Regions from separate parts of the Homo sapiens genome. Here region 2 is linked to region 1. Evidence: fine-mapped expression QTL. A gene starts in region 1. The other region holds a variant in brackets. All regions are shown on one strand. Distances are between the middles of the regions. Region 1 holds the start of LDHA (lactate dehydrogenase A). Region 2 has its middle 2.2 kb from the start of SAA2-SAA4.

Region 1 (4,388 bases):
GCTTCTTTAATGTTTATTAACCAAGAGATTTTTTTAAGCTATTTTACTTCCTTTGGGGGTATTTGCCACTATAAATCACTAGAGATGACTAAAAAGGGAGGGGAAAAAACCTAATGGTTGCCAAAAGAGAGTTGAAAGGCCTAATGACAGGGTCTGTGAAGAGTGAAGGCCCATACCTTAGCGTGGAAAAGGAATATCGACGTTTGGGTGTAAGTATAGCCTCCTGAGGGTTCACCCATCGCGGTTTATTAACCCCAAGTGGGGCTGGCCTTTCCTCAGACAAGATCACTCTGAGCTACTCCGGCTCCTACAGCAAGGACACAGCCAGGCTTCTCAAGTAAACACCAGAGATACGTGCAGAAAAGCCATTAACTGCCACAAAGCTCAAGCCCAAGGCACAGGAGCCTGCGGTGATCCGCGCGCATGCGCGCTTTGTGGCTCTCCTTCCCGCTCGGAAAGGTGGGCGGAAATCAGACTAATTGCTGGGTCCTCCGAACGCCCGGCTTTTACGCCCCGCCCAAGTCCGGAAGATGGGCGGGCCCAGGAACTTGTGCGCGTGCGCATGCGCATTACAGCGCGCAGGGCGAAGCCGATTAGTCTAGCGGCCTCCGGCCGTTGGGAAGCGGGCATCGGGCCAGAAGGCAGAAGGCTGAGAAGCCCCGCCCGTAAGCAGAGGCAATCTGGAGCTATGCAGCTCAGTGGGTGAGAGGGAGGGAGCTGGGATTCAGACTTCAGACCTAATGAATGCCCCGAAGCAGACGCCAGCAACGTGAAGCCTAGCTGGCAGCCTCCCAGGTCTGGCGCGCAGCCAGCGCCAGACTTTAAATCGCAATACTAGAAACCAGGGCCTGTTAACCAACCGGGAGGGAGGCGCACGGTGTGGCTTCGGCCGTGATCCTTGTTGCAAAGGCCTGTCAGGCCCAGTATGAAGAAATAGTTTCAGTACAGGGAGTGTAGAAATAGCTGCAGAAGGCCTGAGGCCTGCAGCCCTAGAGTTAATAGCTACTTGGTGGAACCCTCGAATTCTTTCCACCTTGTTAATCCAACCCTGCACTGCATTCGCTGGAGGAAATATCACAGGCTGCATCCCCAAAGTATCACGTCTAGTTTTGACACCACTCCAAAGGGCAAAAATCCGAGAGGACCTCTAGGCAGGCAGTCAGCCCAGAGTCACCAAGCTGGAGCCGGGTCTCTCCTTACAAATCACTGCTATTTCTAGACAGCCTTGTAAGGTTTCTAGCCTGGCAGGGGGAAGGGAGTTCCTGCGGACACCTGCTAGCTTCACTGAACGGCCCCGGGATCCAATGCTACCTTTAATGTAGGGGCGGAGGTGGGAGGGCATGGGATGAGGGAAGGGTGCGTCTAGAGGCGAGAGACATGCAAAAACGAGTTCTACACCTCACCTCTGCCTCCTACTCACTGGGAACTTAGAGATCCCTGACTGTCTCCTAGCTTTCGGTCTCCCTATTTGTTAAAAGGAGGAGTTGGTACCGGCGGATCCTACTCAACTGACCGTCTGAGGTGCGGAAGGGCTGGGATGCTGCCTGCTTCATCTTTGCATGCGCCGTGCCTAGCGCAGCCCGAGATACACCAGTAGCTTCTTAATAAATGCGCAAAGGGCTCCCTATAATCTGCAGGCAGCAGCTGCCCTCACGGAGCCCACCTCTCGAGCGTCCCAAGAGAAAAATGCAAGCCGCGTGGTACTCAGCCGCTTTCCGTCTTTCAAGAACCCGCCCCGGACAAGCTGAGGCTTTTTTGGCTCTATGGGCTCCGAGAACTGGACCTCGAGTTTTGCACCGCCCGCCGATTTCGAGCCCAGAGGTATCCCCCACCCTTAAGGCCTATCATATCCTTGTTCCGCATCCACCCGGGCTTTCGACCCCTGCTTGGGTGCGGCCACCTCCTCGGTTCCCCAGCGTGGCCAGAAGCCATGGTTCCCGCTTAGAGCAAAAGCAGAGCGCGGCGAGCTCCGAACACATGCGTTGTGTGGGCCGCCGCCCAGACGTCTCTGGGCTGTGCTTCTGGAAAGCGGCTCCTACACCTCCCGGGAGCAGGAATCCCTTCGCGAGCAGCGGAGGCCAGCAGAACCAGAGGCAGTTGGCTCTACCCGCCCATCCCTCTGGCGCCGTGCGCGCAGGGCCCTACCGTACCGGGAATGCACGTCGGGCGGTCGTCGGGGGCGCGTGGCAATGAGATCCGGAATCGGCGGCAGCGGCTGCAGCACTCTGAGCTGGGCGCGGGAGGGGCCTTAAGTGGAACAGCTATGCTGACGTCAGCGGGGGGGGCCGGCGGACGTGCGGGAACCCACGTGTGAGTCGGGCTGGGGGTGGATGCCGAGCCAGGCGGGGCACTGGAGAGGCCCGGGTGGCGCGCGCAGCCAGACAACCGACCGGCAGACTGCTCCACGTGCGCTGGGAGTCTAAGTAAGGTGCTGCCCTCCAACCACAGAAGCCGGGGTCGGAGCCATGAGCCTGAGTCAGGACGACCTTCAGTTTCCTCATCCATGAAACCTGGGGAGGTTACTCTCAGGAAGGCTTGGATCTGTTTCTTCTTCATCCCTGTTTCTCAGTGTCCAGAACAGCTTCTGGCACGTAATAGGCACTCCACAAATATTTGTTGAACGAAAGGAAGAAAATGCCTAGCAGTCAGTCAGTCTGTTCTTACCTAAGTCGAGTGACCTCCAAAACTCGACGCTGCTTTTCCCTCTGCTGCTAAGCCTACCAGCTCCCACTCACAGTGAAGCCTTGGCCTCTCAGGCCTTGCAGGGTGACTCAGTTCAAATGTACATTTTATTCTGCACTTTCTACTGCCCACCCCACTGGCATCTCATCTCGAGTCTCAACCATACCCAAGAACTGTCAGTGGCTTGTTTTTTTGGTTTTGGTTTTTTGTTTGTTTATTTGTTTTTTGGTATTTTTCGAGACAGGGTCTCACTCTGTCACCCAGGCTGGAGGGCAGTGGCGTGATCATGGCTTCCTGCAGCCTCGACCTTCTGGCTCAAGCGATCCTCCCACCTCGGCTCCCCGAAGTGACTGGGACTACAAGCGCGCCCACTTGCCCTGCGATTTTTTTTTTAATTATTAATTTTTTTTTTTTTGAAACGGAGTCGCTCTGTCGCCCAGGCTGGAGTGCAGTGGGCTGATCTCGGCTCACTGCAACCTCCGCCTCCCGGGTTCAAGCGAATCTCCTGCCTCAGCCTCCTGAGAAGATGGGATTACAGCCAGGCGCCACCACGCCCGGCTAATTTTTGTAATTTTTAGTAGAGACGGGGTTTCACCATGTTGGTCAGGCTGATCTCAAACTCCTGGCCTCAAGTGATCTGGCCGCCTCGGCCTCACAAAGAGCTGGGATTACAGGCGTGAGCCACCGTGCCCAGCTCAATTTTTTGTTTTCTTATCATACTTACCTCTGGGCCTGTATTCTTGCTGATTCCATTGCCTAGCCCGCCCTCCTCCATCTCTTCTTTAATTTGTACCAATACTTCCCCACTGTGGGGTATATTATGAAATATATTTGGTAAGCCCTTGAGTATGCCAAAATTTCCTGAATTTTCTGATAGGAATGTCTTTTGTTATTTATAAAGAGCCTTTTTCCCTGACTTAATGTTAATGAATGAGGAGTCTTAGATAGCCTCAGGAAGGAGCCAGTCATGGGAAAGACCAAATGATTAGGGAATTAGAGGGCTGGAACTTTCAGCCCAAAGGGGTGGATGGCTTTACTTACTCCCTGAACCTACAGCAGCAGCCCAGTGCAGCTTTGAGATAGATCCATAACTGAGTTTCTTGGTTTTGACGGAAAACTCTAACCTCAGCTCCAAAATAGCACAAGGGGCCAGGTGCAGTGACTCATGCCTGTAATCCCAGCACCAATGTGGTTGAGGTGGGAGGACTGCTTGAGGCCAGGAGTTCGAGACTAGCCTGGGCAGCATAGTGAGACCCTGTCTCAAAAAAAAAAAAAAAATAGCAGGGCATGCTTGCATGTTCTAACAGTTTTCCCATCACTCTAGATTCTAAGATCACTCTAGGTTCTGAAATGGGGCTCTCACCTCAAACACACAGCTGGAAAGTTTAGGGGTGGGCCACTGATTCTTCAGAGTACCTCAGGGCAGGGCAGATTGCCACAGTGTTTTCCGGTTTCTCAGTCTTTGCAACAGTGTTCTCAGTCAGGGCTGGGCCCCTGCCTGCCTACCAAATGTGACCACTGCTGCTGGGAAGAGGTGTGCAGAAGGCAGAGAGCTGAAGTTGGCTGGGGAGACGAAGAATTTTCACCTGAAAGGCTTGGGTTGGGGCACTCTGAGATGACCTGTGAAGATAAACTAGGTAGAGTCTTCATTCCCCTAATTTATGATACCTAGCAACAGCTTGCTCCAAGCACAGCTTCAGGCTTCT
Region 2 (4,388 bases), 140 kb after region 1:
ACCTGAGGTCAGGAGTTTGAGACCAGCCTGGCCAACATGGTGAAACCCCGTCTCTACTAAAAATGCAAAAATTAGCCGGGCATGGGGGCAGGCACCTGTAATCCCAGCTACTCGGGAGGCTGAGGCACGAGAATCGCTTGAACCTGGGAGGCAGAGGTTGCAGTAAGCAGAGATCGCGCCACTGCATTCCAGCCTGGGCAACAAAAACAGACTCGGTCTCAAAAAAAGGAAAAGATATATATACATATATAAAGATAAATATATATATATGTGTGTGTGTATATATCTAAACACTACAGCTCTTACTTTTTTAATTGACTTAACTTTTCATTGACTTAACTTCTCTTTTTTTTTTTTTGAGATGGAGTTTCGCTCTTGTGGCCCAGGCTGGAGTGCAATGGTGCAATCTTGGCTCACCGCAACCTCCACCGCCCGGGTTCAAGCAATTCTCCTGCCTCAGCCTCCTAAGTATCTGGGATTACAGGCATATGCCACCACACCCAGCTAATTTTGCATTTTTAGTAGAGACGGGTTTTCTCTATGTTGGTCCGGCTGGTCTTGAACTCCCAACCTCAGGTGATCCACCTGCTTCAGCCCGGCAAAGTGCTGGGATTACAGGCGTGAGCCACCGCACCCAGCTGACTTAATTTTCATAGATAACTTATTCATCATAAAGAATTAATTTATTGGCTGGGTGTGGTGGCTCACAACTGTAATTCTAGCACTTTGGGAGGCCAAGGCAGGCGGATTGCTTGAGCCCAGGAGTTCCAGACCAACCTGAGCAAAATATTTATTTTTTGTGTTTATTTACAATAAATACAAAAAGTTATCTAGGCCCAGTGGTGTGCACCTGTAGTCCCAGCTACTCGGGGGGCTGAGGTGGGAGGTTCACCTGATGCCGGAGAGGTTGAGGTTTCAGTGAGCTGAGATTGTATCACTGCACTGCAGCCTGGGTGACAGAGCCAGACTTTGTCTTAAAAAGAAAGAAAGAAAGAAAGAAAGAAAGAGAGAGAGAGAGAGACAGAGAGAGAGAGAGGGGGGGAGAGAGAAAGAGAGAGAGAAAGAAAGAAAGAAAGAAAGAAAGAAAGAAAGAAAGGAAGGAAGGAAGGAAGGAAGGAAGGAAGGAAATAAATAAATAAATAAATAAATAAATAAATAAAGAAAGAAAGAAAGAAAGAAAGAAAGAATTTGTTGCCTTCCTGATAAAAATTCCAGTGGGAAATTTTGATTCACATTGCATTTAATTTATAAATAAATTTGGGAGAATTGGTATCTTTGCTAAGCTAAAATATAATCTCTGTGGACATGACGTACATTGCCACTGTTTATCCTTTAACAGACTAAATTTTCTCTGTAAGAGGTTATTTCCTAGATAGTTAATATTTTTGGTACTACTTTGTGCTGTATTTTATAACTATTAAGGAATGTTGCAGAGAAATGCTATCAATTGTTAAAATTTTGCCATGAATACAGCAGCCTCACTGAATTCTCTTAGTAGTTCTAATAGCTTGCCATTTGATTCTAACAGGTTTTCTATGTAAAAGATGGTGTCATCTTCAAACAATGATAGTTTCATTTCTTCTCTTTCACCTCTTACCTTCCTTGTGTTTCTTTAGCATTGGGCAGGTCCTTCAGGGATATGTGAAACAGTGGCAGTAACAACCAGACATCCTGGCCTCTTTGTTTTTTTTTCCATGATGAAGTCTCACTCCGTTGCCCAGGCTGGAGTGCAGTGGCACGATCTCGGCTCACTGCAGCCTCCACCTCCCGGCTTCAAGTGATTCTCCTGCCTCAACCCCCCAAGTACTTGGGATTACAGGTACCTGCCACTACACCCGACTAATTTTTGTACTTTTAGTAGAGACAGGGTTTCACCATGTTGGCCAGGCTGGTTGAGAATTCCTGACCTCCAGTGATCCACCTGCCTCGTCCTCTCTAAGTTCTTGGATTACAAGTGTGAGCCACCACGCCTGCCATTGTGGCCTCTTTATTGGTCTTCTTGAGAATGCACCTGAAGTGTCTTAATTACACATAATGTTTGCTGTAGAGCAATGATTCTCAAACCTTTTGGTCTCAGGATCCCATTACACTATTAAAAATTATTGAATACCCCAAAGAACTTTTATTTATGGGGACTCTATTCATCAGTATTTACCATAATAGAAA[G/T]AAAAAATTTAAACATTTATCAATTCTTCAAAAAATTATCCATCTTCTATATGTTAACATAAATAATATATTTTTATGAAAAATAACCATCTTCCAAAAGAAAAAAAGTAAGAAGAGTACTATGGTTTTACCCTTTTGAAAATTTTTCATGTCTGATTTTTTTTTCATAGCTGGATTTTCCTATCTGATTCATCATCCAACCTGTTTTAATATGTTATTTAGGTTGGAGTATATGAAGAAAATTCAGCCTCACACAGATATATAGTTGAAATGGGGGAGTGTATTTTAATGGTATTTTTAGATAATTGTGGCTATTCTATATTATACCAAACTCAACAAGTGGTAGCTTCTGAAAAGTCAGTTACCATGTGGAAATCCACACTCATATCAACTAACTTGTCATATTGTGTGTACTCATGAGAAAATGAGACTGAAACATGAAAATAGTGTGTTAGCACTATTCTAAAAATAATTTTGAGATCAAAGCCTCCCTAAGGAGGGATTCTTAGGGTTCCCTGGAAAACAGTTTGAGAACTGTTGCTATAACATATTGGTATTTATCCTTTCTCAAGTCAGAAATGGTCTCTTTATTTTGTTATACATTTTCCTTATCATCAGTAGATGTTGACAATTATGAAATTCATTTTCTGCATCTAGTAAAATAAATGTACAATCCTTTTCTTTGATTACTGGTATAGTGAATTACAAAGATAGATTTTTCTGATATGAAACTCTTCTTGACTCCCTGGAATAAGCCCTGGTTAATCACGATGTGCTATTATTTTCACCTGATCTGTGCTGTACCATGTACAGCATGATGTACTATTACTGCTACCCAGTTGGAAACATTCAGCCTCTCTCTGTGAGCTCTTTTTCCCTGGGGATGTCAACTACCCTGCCTAAAATATGTGTGACTGTGTGTGTGGACCCATTCCAGCAGGTACCACTCTCAGTGGTTTTAAGGTGGCAAGATGTAGTGGGGGAGGTGGAGGTGTCAATGCATAGGTCTCAGAACAGAGTCTATAATATCATTGTTCACATTGGAGCCACGCATTTGCTGCTTATGGAGTATTTGGCCATCCTTTACTTCCTGGCCCTACCCATTTCTCAGAGATTAAAAAAAATTTTTTAAGATAATCTTGCTGTGTTGCCCAGGCTGGCCTCAAATTTCTGGGTTCAAGCAGGCCTCCTGCCTTGGCCTCCCAAGTAGCTGGGACTATAGGCACATGCCACCATGCCTGGCCCATTTCTAAATTGCTTGTTTGTTTGTTATTACAAATGCCTAGCCCTCAGGGTATGAACATGGACTGGAGAAGAAGAAACCAGAGTTGCTGCTATGTCCACCAGCCTCTCTGCATGTCCTGGCCTCAGCCCCCCTGGGCTCTGGTACTGACCCATCTCTGGCCACCATGCTCCTCCATAAGCCTCTGCAGAGCTAATCTGACCCTGTTGATGTTCTCATGAGAGAGTGATCTGCATGCCCCCTGCACCCCTCCGTGATAATACAGCAGACCAAGAGCTCTCCCACCCTTCCCTGCCTGGATGCTGGGCACGTCCCCAGCTGGGCTGCCTATTTAACGCACCACACTCTCATTCTCCCAAGGTGGGGCTCCAGGACTAGGCTGGGGCAGCAGAAAGTCCCCCTCTCTACATTGTCCTTGGCTCAGGAGCCAACTTAGAAAAAGCATTTCCAAATTGGCTAAGCCAGCGGAGCAGAGATTTTCTGTGCTGAGAAATATCAGGACATCCAGAGGGGTGGAAGGAGGCTTCCAGGGCACACATGAGATGTGGCAGGGGTAGGCTGTCCGTTTTAAAGCTTAAAGCTTTAGACATGAACTCACAGGGATTTCAGTCAGGGTCATCTGCCATGTGGCCCAGCAGGGCCCATCCTGAGGAAATGACCGGTATAGTCAGGAGCTGGCTGAAGAGCTGCCCTCACTCCACACCTTCCAGCAGCCCAGGTGCCGCCATCACGGGGCTCCCACTGGCATCTCTGCAGCTGCACTTCCCCCAATGCTGAGGAGCAGAGCTGATCTAGCACCCTGTCCATTGCCAAGGCACAGCAAACCTCTCTTGTTCCCATAGGTTACACAACTGGGATAAATGACCCGGGATGAAGAAACCACCGGCATCCAGGAACTTGTCTTAGACCAGTTTGTAGGGGAAATGACCTGCAGGGACTTTCCCCAGGGACCACATCCAGCTTTTCTTCCCTCCCAAGA

The links. PIP is the estimated chance that this variant, and not a neighbour inherited with it, causes the effect.
Region 2: its variant is the best candidate, but not a certain one, in a credible set for the expression of LDHA in whole blood (TOPMed, PIP 0.82).

What each region holds. Positions count from the first base shown.
Region 1 is chr11:18,392,399-18,396,786 of GRCh38, reverse strand. It overlaps LDHA (lactate dehydrogenase A), which reads right to left and starts at 2,224. Exons shown (of 8, transcript NM_005566.4): 1 at 2,151-2,224. RefSeq lists enhancers at 363-864, 2,129-2,218, 1,599-2,264, 2,529-2,618, 2,265-2,929 and a silencer at 1,319-1,368.
Region 2 is chr11:18,248,683-18,253,070 of GRCh38, reverse strand. No RefSeq gene overlaps it. Among named protein-coding and RNA genes, the nearest start is that of SAA2-SAA4, 2.2 kb to the right of the region's middle. The variant G/T (reference allele first, on the strand shown) is at 2,167.